Homo sapiens: one gene and its partner. The protein of the gene in region 1 purifies or fractionates together with the protein of each later gene. This does not show direct contact. Each region holds a gene or a part of one and is shown on either strand. Other genes may lie near its edges.

Region 1 (5,029 bases):
CAGTGGCTAAGCCCCTTCTTCTGGCCTGACAGTGATCATTGCTTTGATTGCAGCTGAGGCAGGGATCAGCGGAGATGGCAGATCATGATGGTTCTGCCACCAGCAGTTTAACCAATGGGGCATGGAATATCTAAATTGGGGGACAGTTAATCAGTCATAATAAGGTCAAAGTCAGAAGTTGGAGACCTGTGAGCCACTTGACTTCACTCTCTGCTTTGATGACAGACCAAATTTGTATTCTTGGTCAGCTGTCAGGCAATATTTAGTCACAGAGAAATGGCGTGTTTGTGAGTATCCACGCTAGGGAAAATAATCAAGCCAAGGTAACTCTGCATTACCAATAACTGTGATGGAAGAAGTATAGGATCTGGAACAGGATAGATCTAGATAAAACTTCCTGCTACGTCATCTAACCCTTTTGAGTCTGTTTCTCGCTATAAAAATGGAATAATACATCTACCTATCAGGTGATTAACAATGATTTAAAACAGTGCCTCTCCCAATGCCTGTCATTGCAATAACTACTCAGGAAATATTGGTTTCCTTTTATTCTTTCCGTCTACTTTACACTTAAATACAGTGCTTAAAATAAGGTTTAATAAATATTTGTTATTGGATGAACAAAAGGAAAAAGGGGTAGGCTAGTTCTAGTATGTCGAAAATGTGTTTCTAATGGAAGGAGAGAAACATTGGCTTTCTGTTTCCATGCCATATGGATTTTGCTTCATATTCTGGTATATGTTGGTCTACCTATTGGAAACGCTGTATCATGCTTTGTTGAGCAAATTTAGTTAAAATTCTGCTTAGATGACACATTCTGAGAACCTTTTCTTATCACTCATTGATTAACTATTTCTTCCTCTGTATGACTTCTGCCCTTCATAGATATCTCATTGTAAAAATGTTTACAGTATGCAAATATGCACTTTCTCCTATGTGAGTGTCATCTCTTGGAGGGCAGGGGCCAGTGGTTTAAATATCTTAGTAACTCCAGCCCCTTGTCTAGAACCTGGCTGCCTGACACATCCCAGGCAACCAATGAATCTTTAATTCATTGAGCTTATGGGTCATTACTGGGGCTTGTTTTCTGATCAGTAACTTCCATCTACATGCATACACACACACACACACACACACACACACACACACACACACACATAATGTATGATGGGGATAGTGGATAAGAACTTTAACTAAAACTGCCTGGCTTTGTCACTTGTGAACTGTGTAAATTTGGTTGTCATTCATCTGTTTCTGTATCTATAAAATGAGAACAACAATAGTATCTGCATCTGGAGTTTTAGGGGTAAATAAGTCAATACATGTGAAATTTGTAGAACAAAGCCTGGCTTATAATAAGTGCTCAATAAATGTTAGCAACTATTGTATGTTAGAGCTGTATTTTAACAGCTCTGGCTTTAGAGTCAGATACCTTGAGTTGGAGTCCTGGTTCCATCTCTCTCGGGCTTTGTGCCCTTGGCTAGGTTGACAACTTGAGTCTATTTTCTCATTTGCAAAATGGAAATACTAATGCCACCATGGGGTCTGGGAGAGGAGATAATGAGATGAGGCATGGAAAGCAATAGTATATTACCCATCACTGTTGTTGCTATTATTAGTTTATGGTGCTTTAAACCTATCAAAATAGTTGTAAGTAAATGGATTTCTTGTTCTCCCAATAACAATTCTCTGAGCTAGGATAGATGTCTTTCTGGCCATTTTACAGGTGATGACACTGACATAGGGACTGAGTGGGTAGCTTAAGTTCCATGGTTACCAGGAGCAGGACCCACGTTTCCTGTCTCCCAGTCTCATCCTTTTTCCACTGACCAGGTTGGTTGCTCCCTTGGAAAGCAGTCCCTGAGAGTTGACTTAGAAGTTCAGGGGGAAGAGGTGGATGAAGGCATGTTGGATGCACAGTGAATCAGGTTGCAGTGTGAATGTTTCTCAGTGGTGTGTCTAGACTTCCCCCATCCAAAGACTAACCAGGCCTGACTCCATTTCACTTCCAAGATCAGATGAGATCGGGTGCATTCAGGGTGGTATGTCCAAAGACTGTGTCAGGGGATTTGTTTTGGAAGTGGGGTGGCATTATTAAAAACACACCGGCTTCATCCACACATTCATCACGGAAGAGGGAAAATTAGTAAGGGTTCCACCATTCAGGCTGTGGACTATAGTGTCATCCCTAAATCCTCATTATGAGGCCTACCAGGGCTTTCTTGAGCCCTGCAGGCAGCTAGCAAAGGGACTGAAAAAGAAATGAGGCCTGGGGTTGTCTGGGGAGGGAAGCTTTAGGCAGTTGCTCTGTAGGCTTGAAGGGAGGGAAATTATGGCTTTTCAAGTCCTTAGAAATTGGGCATTTGAGTGTGTACCTTTTATTATAATGGACCCTAGAATATTCAAAGGAAGTTTAGTGGAGATAGCTGACTTATTTCATTGGGCCACTGAGCTAGCAGAATTTTAGCTTCATCTTTATTCCACCTTGCAATTGTTCCATCTTATATATGCTGGTTGCCTAATAGAAGTTGATTTGGTTGAATTAATTACAAGATCAATGAGAGGTTTAAAGGTGCTTTTTTTTCAATGGAAGAGTAAAGGCAGGAGCCAAACTTGAAGGAGTTAAGAAGCAACTTGATTCCCACTGCCCATCTGCCTTTATATATCCCACTTCTTGATGCTGGCTAGTATCTTCCTTTTTTGTTTTTTCTAACTAATCTTCCTCCTCCTGACAGAAGAGTACGAATGTCTACCAAAGTTCAGCTTTTTGCATTACTTGTTTTTAACGTCAGGAACTGAATGTTGCGCAAGGATGGTTTTTGTAAAAGCCAGGGATGGCGTGGCTTCCATTTTCCTTCATTCAACTGACACCCTCCAGTTGTAATCTGATGGCTCTTACCAAGCAGCAGGCCTTGTGGGGTAAAGTAGTATAGGGCCCTTAGAATCGAACCAACTGTTGCAAGGTAGCAAATCAGCCTTCAAGTAGTTTTTAGTGTCAGCAGGAAAACAGACTGACTTCTATGTGCCACTAACTAAGAAATATTGCCAGTACTGGGGCTGAAAGATCACACATGTAAAATACCTAGTTCAGTACCTGGTAAAGAACAGTTAATTTGTGAAACATCGTGGTGGTTATTGCTCCCTGAGGCCTAATCTCTAGGGCTTTCCCCTCCTGTTCCCGTCCAGGAGTCTTGGGTGTTTGCTCTAATGCATCCTTTGCAGGGGATGGAGGAGAGGATGGCTGCCCTCTGCTCTTTCTTCTCTGGCAAACTCATCCTACTCTGGATCCCAGTTTGTACATCTATATGCTAAGGGTGTTGGACTAGTGTAGGGGCTTTTATTTGGAGTTCGCAGATAAACTGCAAAGGGGCCTATGAACTCCTTAAACCATGACAAAAATTATTCCTGTGTGTGTTATGGGCAGCCCTGCTGACTCTAATATGTGAAGAACCACCATCTTTGATGCCCCTAAGGGCATAAATCTTCTGTCATATCAGTTACTCAGGGTCCCAAAGTTTGATACACATGCTCCTGGTGGTTCACAAAATGATTTCAGGTGGTATGTGGGTGCATGTTTGTTACATTGATAATTATGTGATTAATGTTAGGGAAAAACCTAGCATATCAGAGTTGAAATTTCATGCATATTATTTCTTTGGAGGAGGCTAAGTCTTGCTTTTAAGAAAAGGTGACTTAAAAAAATGTTACATGAGTAATAGTACAAATGTGAGTTGATTCTTAAGTTTGAGATACAATGATTGGTCCCAACCCCCGACGTGGTACAGACAGAGGAGCTGAGTCCGGAGAAGTGGAGAAAAGGCCATAAAGGAAGTCGGTGGTAAATGTAGGCCAATAACCCAGTGGCCTTCTGCAAAATCATCACTCTCTATGACTGGCAGAAGTTTCTGACTCTCTCATGTCTCCTCCAAGAACACTGTCCCAGTCAGGACAGAAATCTTGCCCAGAGAGTTTACACCTTAGCCACTTTACTTGAGATGCCTAAGGCGAGGCTTTCCTTGCAGGAAAAATGAGAAATACTGAGAAAGTCTCGTCTTTGTTCCCATGCTCCCTCAATTCTGAGACGTACTTTTTTACATTTTAATGTTCCTGAAATTGGGCTGCATCTAACAAGACTGTTTTTACCTAAGGTGACAGTTATTTCCTTGCCAAAAAGCTATTAGTAAATGGATAGTAGCTTAGAATTGAGATAAAATGATTCTTTCACTATTTTTTCCTCCTCCAAAGCAAATTACACTTGAAAGTCAGGACTTCTAATACATCTGTAAACTGAAAGAAAATTTCCCTTTCATTGAAAAACTCTCATCTCAAACCATTTACCCTGCACTAAATGGGAGTTAGGAGAAATGAGTCATCAAGACAGATGTAGAGATATTAACCCAGAACCAGTTTTCTGGACTCCACCCATCTACTTTCCTAAGTTTATAAATCCTTTGCATGCATTTAGTGCCTTTCCTAGGGGTGTGCCACATAGAACCTTCTGGAAATGGCTTTCTAGAAGTTATAAATCTGGATCCTCAACTGGGGAAAAGGATGAACCATCTTCCACAGCTTCAAGTGGACTTCATTCACTTCATGTCACAGCTGCTTGATTTCCCCACAGTTCATTTCTGTAGAAGAGAGCCTTCTGGTCTGTTTTTCCAGATGGCGAGCTTGGGGTGAGTTAGAAGTGCCTGATTGGACTTCACAACTCAGCGTTTTTATTGGCTATTTTTGTTCTAGGTACAATGGAGGTTGATGGATTGTTACTTTTGGTTACCAAAACCAGGAGGAGGGGAGGGTGCTGCTTAGGAGAAACACCCAAAAAGAACAGACCAGCCTTTCTCAGGGACTCAGGGGTGGTGGCACTGCTTCCAACTTACTGCTTCATTTAGAACACCAGATAATAAGCACCCAGGACTCGGCCTTTAGAAGTCAATGGAATAAATAAGCTGGAAAAGGTTGAAGAGAAAAAAGCCAAGGAACATGTAAGTAGAAGATTATATGGAGCCATTTAAGAGCACAAAAAGCA
Region 2 (5,029 bases), on another chromosome or scaffold:
CCAGTTTATATATAATAAATACACTTTTTAGGTTTATGATTTATCATATACAGACCATTATTTCATTTGACCCTCACAACGACGTTGTGGTTAAGTGAGCATTCCTGCTTTAGATACAAAGAGACAGGTTCACCGGGGCTCTGTGATGAGCCCAGGTCCCTTAGACAGTAGGAGGGGCAAAGCTAGGACTCCGGGCAGCATGTTTGACCCCAAGTCCAGCAGGCCTGGTTTTGTCCTCAGCTAAGAGATGACAGTGGGCGTGTCATCCTCCCGAGGACGCACAGATAGCGCCAGGGCAAGCTTTCCCTGTGGCAGTGGCTGCACACTTGGTCGTAGGTGTTGGGCTGAGCCTTCCTGGTCATATCGTTTTCCCCCTTTCCATGGGGTTTGTGGTGAGCAAGGAGGGACCAGGTAGAGTGGAAGGAGGAAAGTTGGGAGGCGCCGAGGGAGGCATTTCTCTTTCTGCCAAATGATGAGTGTGCGACCAGACTGCGGCAGAGAACGAGCCATGCTCTCTGAGTGTAAAAGCTGCATTGTGAGCACACGTGACGATCCGAAGGAGTTAATTCTCCCCCGGGGGCTGACTTGTTCCACAGAAGGGGCGACAGGCCTGGAGAGCAGTTTGAAGCCTTTTCCTCCACGAGGGCTGTGGGATTTGACTCCCGCAGTGCTGTTGTTGACAGTTTCTCTGTGTGATGGGGGAAACCTTTGCTGAAGCCTTTTGAAACTTTTGATGGCCGATCAAAGAGGAGTGATTCGTGAAATCGGTTATTTTTCCCATCTGCTGAATGTGAACAGTAAAACGTTTTTGCAAAACCAAAACGGGGAGTTCATCTGGCTTCAAAACAAGGAGACCAGCCCTGCAAAGCAGCGTTGACTTTCCACTGGACCCAAAAAGTGCCGTTTTGACCTCAGCCAAGCATTGCAGGCTGTGAACAGCAGAGTCAGCTTTTGAGGATCCTCCAGAACCCTCTGGAAGCCCTATGAGGACACTTCTTAGGTTTTGATACACTTGACTCTATCCAACACTTACCTCCTTGCCTTGGGTCTCTGGGTTTAATTTCCTGCTGTGTTATAGCAACTAAAGGGAAAGGAACGTAAGTAAAGGCTCTGAAGTTGCACTTGCATGGCAAGAGGCTGCAAGGAGCTCAGGTGTCTGGGTCTGCAGTACCCAGTGTGTACCCAGAGCTCGGTACTGACTCAGTACGTGCCTGGACTTCCAAACACCTTCATGCTCATACCTCATGTTTTTGTCATGTCATTCTTGTGGGACATTAGGGCTGGGGAGACCGGGATGGGGAGAAGCGAATTGCCCTGTCTCAGGTACCTTAGGAAACCAGGGGAAAGCTGAGCTCTCATTTGGGGTGGCCTGACTTCCCCATCCTGGTCAGACCTTGTGGATTGTGGGCCACTTTGAAAGAGGGAGGTCTGCACGTTGGAGGTGGTGAGTGCAGCAGGGTGGAACCCTGTCTGCCTGCACCAGGCCTTGGTGAGGGGTCCTGCTGTCTCTCACTGGTGCTGGTGAGTAACCAGGTGGGATCCAGAGAGCAAGGAGGGGTTGCGCATTCCCGCTGGGTTTTGGGCCTCATTTCGTTTTCCCTTCTTTGCCCATAACTTGTATGATGGTTTCCACGTGCACTTTTTTTTTTCCAAACTAATTTTTTTTTGTTTCTTTTGCTTCTGTGGCAAAGCAACAAACTGTAGGCCTTTCACAGGCCCCCTCCACAAAGCCCCTGGGCCCACCTCTGCTTTGTCTTGGCTGTTTCTCTATGTAACTCAGCGGCACCGATGGGAAGATCGGTGTTTGATGTTTGTGTGCATTGGGGGCGAGGTGTGAGGGGAATCATGAAAAACACGAACATTTGGTATTTTCAAATAACCCTTCTCCCGGGCTGTTCTCTCCTGGCAGGATGACAGTGCCGATTTGAGGTGCCAGCTCCAGTTTGCCAAAGAGGAAGCCTTCCTGATGCGCAAAAAGATGGCCAAGCTAGGAAGGGAGAAGGACGAGCTGGAGCAGGAGCTCCAGAAGTACAAGTCCCTCTATGGGGATGTGGACAGTCCCCTGCCCACGGGGGAAGCAGGCGGGCCCCCCAGCACCCGGGAGGCCGAGCTGAAGCTGCGGCTAAAGCTGGTGGAGGAGGAAGCCAACATCTTGGGCCGGAAGATCGTGGAGCTGGAGGTGGAGAACCGTGGCCTCAAGGCAGAGATGGAGGACATGCGGGGCCAGCAGGAGCGGGAGGGCCCGGGTCGGGACCACGCACCCAGCATTCCTACCTCACCCTTCGGTGACTCCCTGGAGTCCTCCACTGAGCTCCGCCGCCACCTGCAGTTTGTAGAAGAGGAAGCGGAGTTGCTCCGGAGGTCCATCTCCGAGATCGAAGACCACAACCGGCAACTGACCCACGAGCTCAGCAAGTTTAAGTTTGAGCCTCCCCGGGAGCCGGGCTGGCTAGGAGAGGGTGCAAGTCCTGGTGCCGGGGGTGGGGCCCCCCTGCAGGAGGAGCTGAAGTCAGCCAGGCTGCAGATCAGCGAGCTCAGCGGCAAGGTGCTCAAACTGCAGCACGAGAACCACGCGCTGCTGTCCAACATCCAGCGCTGCGACCTGGCAGCCCACCTGGGGCTGCGTGCCCCCAGTCCCCGGGACAGCGATGCCGAGAGTGATGCGGGCAAGAAGGAGAGTGATGGGGAGGAGAGCCGCCTGCCCCAGCCCAAGCGGGAAGGGCCTGTTGGCGGGGAGAGTGACTCGGAGGAAATGTTTGAGAAGACGTCGGGCTTCGGGAGCGGGAAGCCATCGGAGGCCAGCGAGCCATGCCCCACGGAGCTCCTGAAGGCCCGGGAGGACTCTGAGTACCTAGTGACCCTAAAACACGAGGCCCAGCGGCTAGAGCGGACGGTGGAGCGCCTCATCACGGACACCGACAGCTTCCTCCATGATGCGGGGCTGCGGGGTGGTGCGCCCTTACCGGGGCCTGGCCTCCAGGGCGAAGAGGAGCAGGGTGAGGGGGACCAGCAGGAGCCCCAGCTGCTGGGGACCATCAACGCCAAGATGAAGGCTTTCAAGAAAGAGCTGCAGGCCTTCCTGGAGCAGGTGAACCGCATTGGGGATGGCCTATCCCCCTTGCCCCACCTCACAGAGTCCTCTAGCTTCCTCTCCACTGTGACTTCCGTGTCCCGGGACTCCCCCATCGGGAACCTGGGGAAGGAGCTGGGCCCAGACTTGCAGGTAAGGGGGCTCGTGGCTTCGCCTCCCTGCTCCGCCTTGCTCTTCCTCCTTCTCGCTGGCATTGCTGCACTCGGGCTCACGCTGCTCACGGCTGCTTGGTTATGATTTCAAACCTGCATTGTACTAAAGCCTCCGGGGCAACCGGATCCTCTCTCTTGGTTGGGCTCCGTTTTTTTTGTTTTTTTTTTTTTTAAGTTCTCTTGTATTGCCTTGTTTCTTTTTCCTTTCTCCTGTCTTATTTTTAACTGCGCCGCGGCTCATGGTTTAGAGGCCCTCCCAGACACGAGGCTGAGCCCAGTGGAAGCGATAGGGCTCGACGCATGCCGGCCTTGCTCCTCTCTTGGTATCTCAACCAACCAGCCACCCGCTGAAGAAGCCGTGAGGAGGCTAAGACAAACGCATGTCACAGTCAGGATAATTAGCAGACTCGCTAACGAGCACGTCCCTTCCTGGGTGTGTTTCAAGGGACACAGTGCAGTCCAAGGCCCTAGGCAGCCCAGGCCCCCACTCCCACTGGAGGATCAGCCAAAGCGGGCGAGGAGCACGGTGCTGAGAAGGATGGTTTTGGTGGAAAAGCTCTGCTGGCTCCTGCCGCCCTGCCGCCGCTGGGGAGGGCGCGGAGGGTCTCCGAGGACTGCTGTCCTAGCCTCGCCTGGGTGCATGGCCCAGCTGCCGCCCTGGACTGTGGCTTTGGCTGCTCGACCCACAAGTAAGGAAGGAAGAGCCTCGTTTTCCGTTTCCTTCACGGGTAGCGTGCTTGCGGTTGAGTTCTGGATTCACGCATCGCCATCGCATGTGCCCCGTAACCAGTGTTTTGCACCCCCACTTTCTCTTTTTGCTTTTCAGATGTGTCCACCCGCCCCTTTGCTCATCCTCATCTTGGGTCTGTTTTCTTCACTTTCTTACACCACTGTCTTTAAGCCTGTGTTTCTGTTCGTGCTGTTCTTTGGTCGTTTTCTCAGTCGTCTCCCTTGTCCATTTTTGTTTTCTTTATCCCCCCTCCCTGCCTCCACCCTTGTCCTTTGTTTGTTTGTTTTTTTGTTTAAAATTTTAAAGAACAACAACAACAAATTCCTCCCGTGCACCTAACAGTCCAGACTGAAAGAGCAGCTGGAGTGGCAGCTCGGGCCGGCCCGAGGGGACGAGCGGGAGAGCCTGCGCCTCCGAGCCGCGCGGGAGCTGCACCGCCGCGCAGACGGGGACACCGGGAGCCACGGGCTGGGAGGCCAGACCTGCTTCAGCCTGGAGGTCAGCGTGGGCAAGCAATCCCCCCCCCCCGCCCTCCCCCTCCTTTTTCTGTGTGGCTGGCTGTGTGACGTTTTCTGTCCCGGACGAGGCCCTGAGGGAACATGGCAGGAGGAGGTGGAACTAGGTGGAACTCACTTGACAGCAAACCCATTTTGTGGCACTGGGACAGGCAGGTGTGCGCAGGTGCCTGCGGTGAACTGCTGTGCTCGTCAGACAGAGGGACAGCTCACTGTAGGCACTGTCCACCTCCTGTTTCCGCAGACCGGGAGCACCTGGAAGTAGGCTGATTGGTGAGTGCGCAGTGGCTTCTTGTCCAGTCGCAGAGAAAGAAGGGATGAAAACCCAGCACGGGCTTCCCTGCTCTGGAGGAAACTCTCCTTAGAGTTCCCCTTTTCAGCTCTTTGTTGCCTGTGTCTCATGTGACCATCCCACGGTCTCGAGTGACACTGCTGGCAGGTTGGTAGAATCAGGGAGGCTCGCTCCTGACCTGTGGGCACCCCTAGCAGTGTCTGTCACCACAGTAACCCGGTATACACAAGGCTTCAGCCACCACAGAGA

What was found. Proteins that work in one complex are often made in the same cells at the same time.
Region 2: the proteins of PPP2R2B (region 1) and MTCL1 purify together in Homo sapiens (affinity purification with mass spectrometry; 4 studies listed by BioGRID and IntAct, with this or other methods). This does not show direct contact.

What each region holds. Positions count from the first base shown.
Region 1 is NC_000005.10:146,584,145-146,589,173, forward strand, and holds part of PPP2R2B (serine/threonine-protein phosphatase 2A 55 kDa regulatory subunit B beta isoform), read right to left. Parts: 3' UTR 1-5,029. UniProt on the Homo sapiens protein: The B regulatory subunit might modulate substrate selectivity and catalytic activity, and might also direct the localization of the catalytic enzyme to a particular subcellular compartment.
Region 2 is NC_000018.10:8,781,621-8,786,649, forward strand, and holds part of MTCL1 (microtubule cross-linking factor 1), read left to right. Parts: intron 1-1,909; coding exon 1,910-3,223; intron 3,224-4,315; coding exon 4,316-4,471; intron 4,472-4,492; exon of another isoform or gene 4,493-5,029. UniProt on the Homo sapiens protein: Microtubule-associated factor involved in the late phase of epithelial polarization and microtubule dynamics regulation.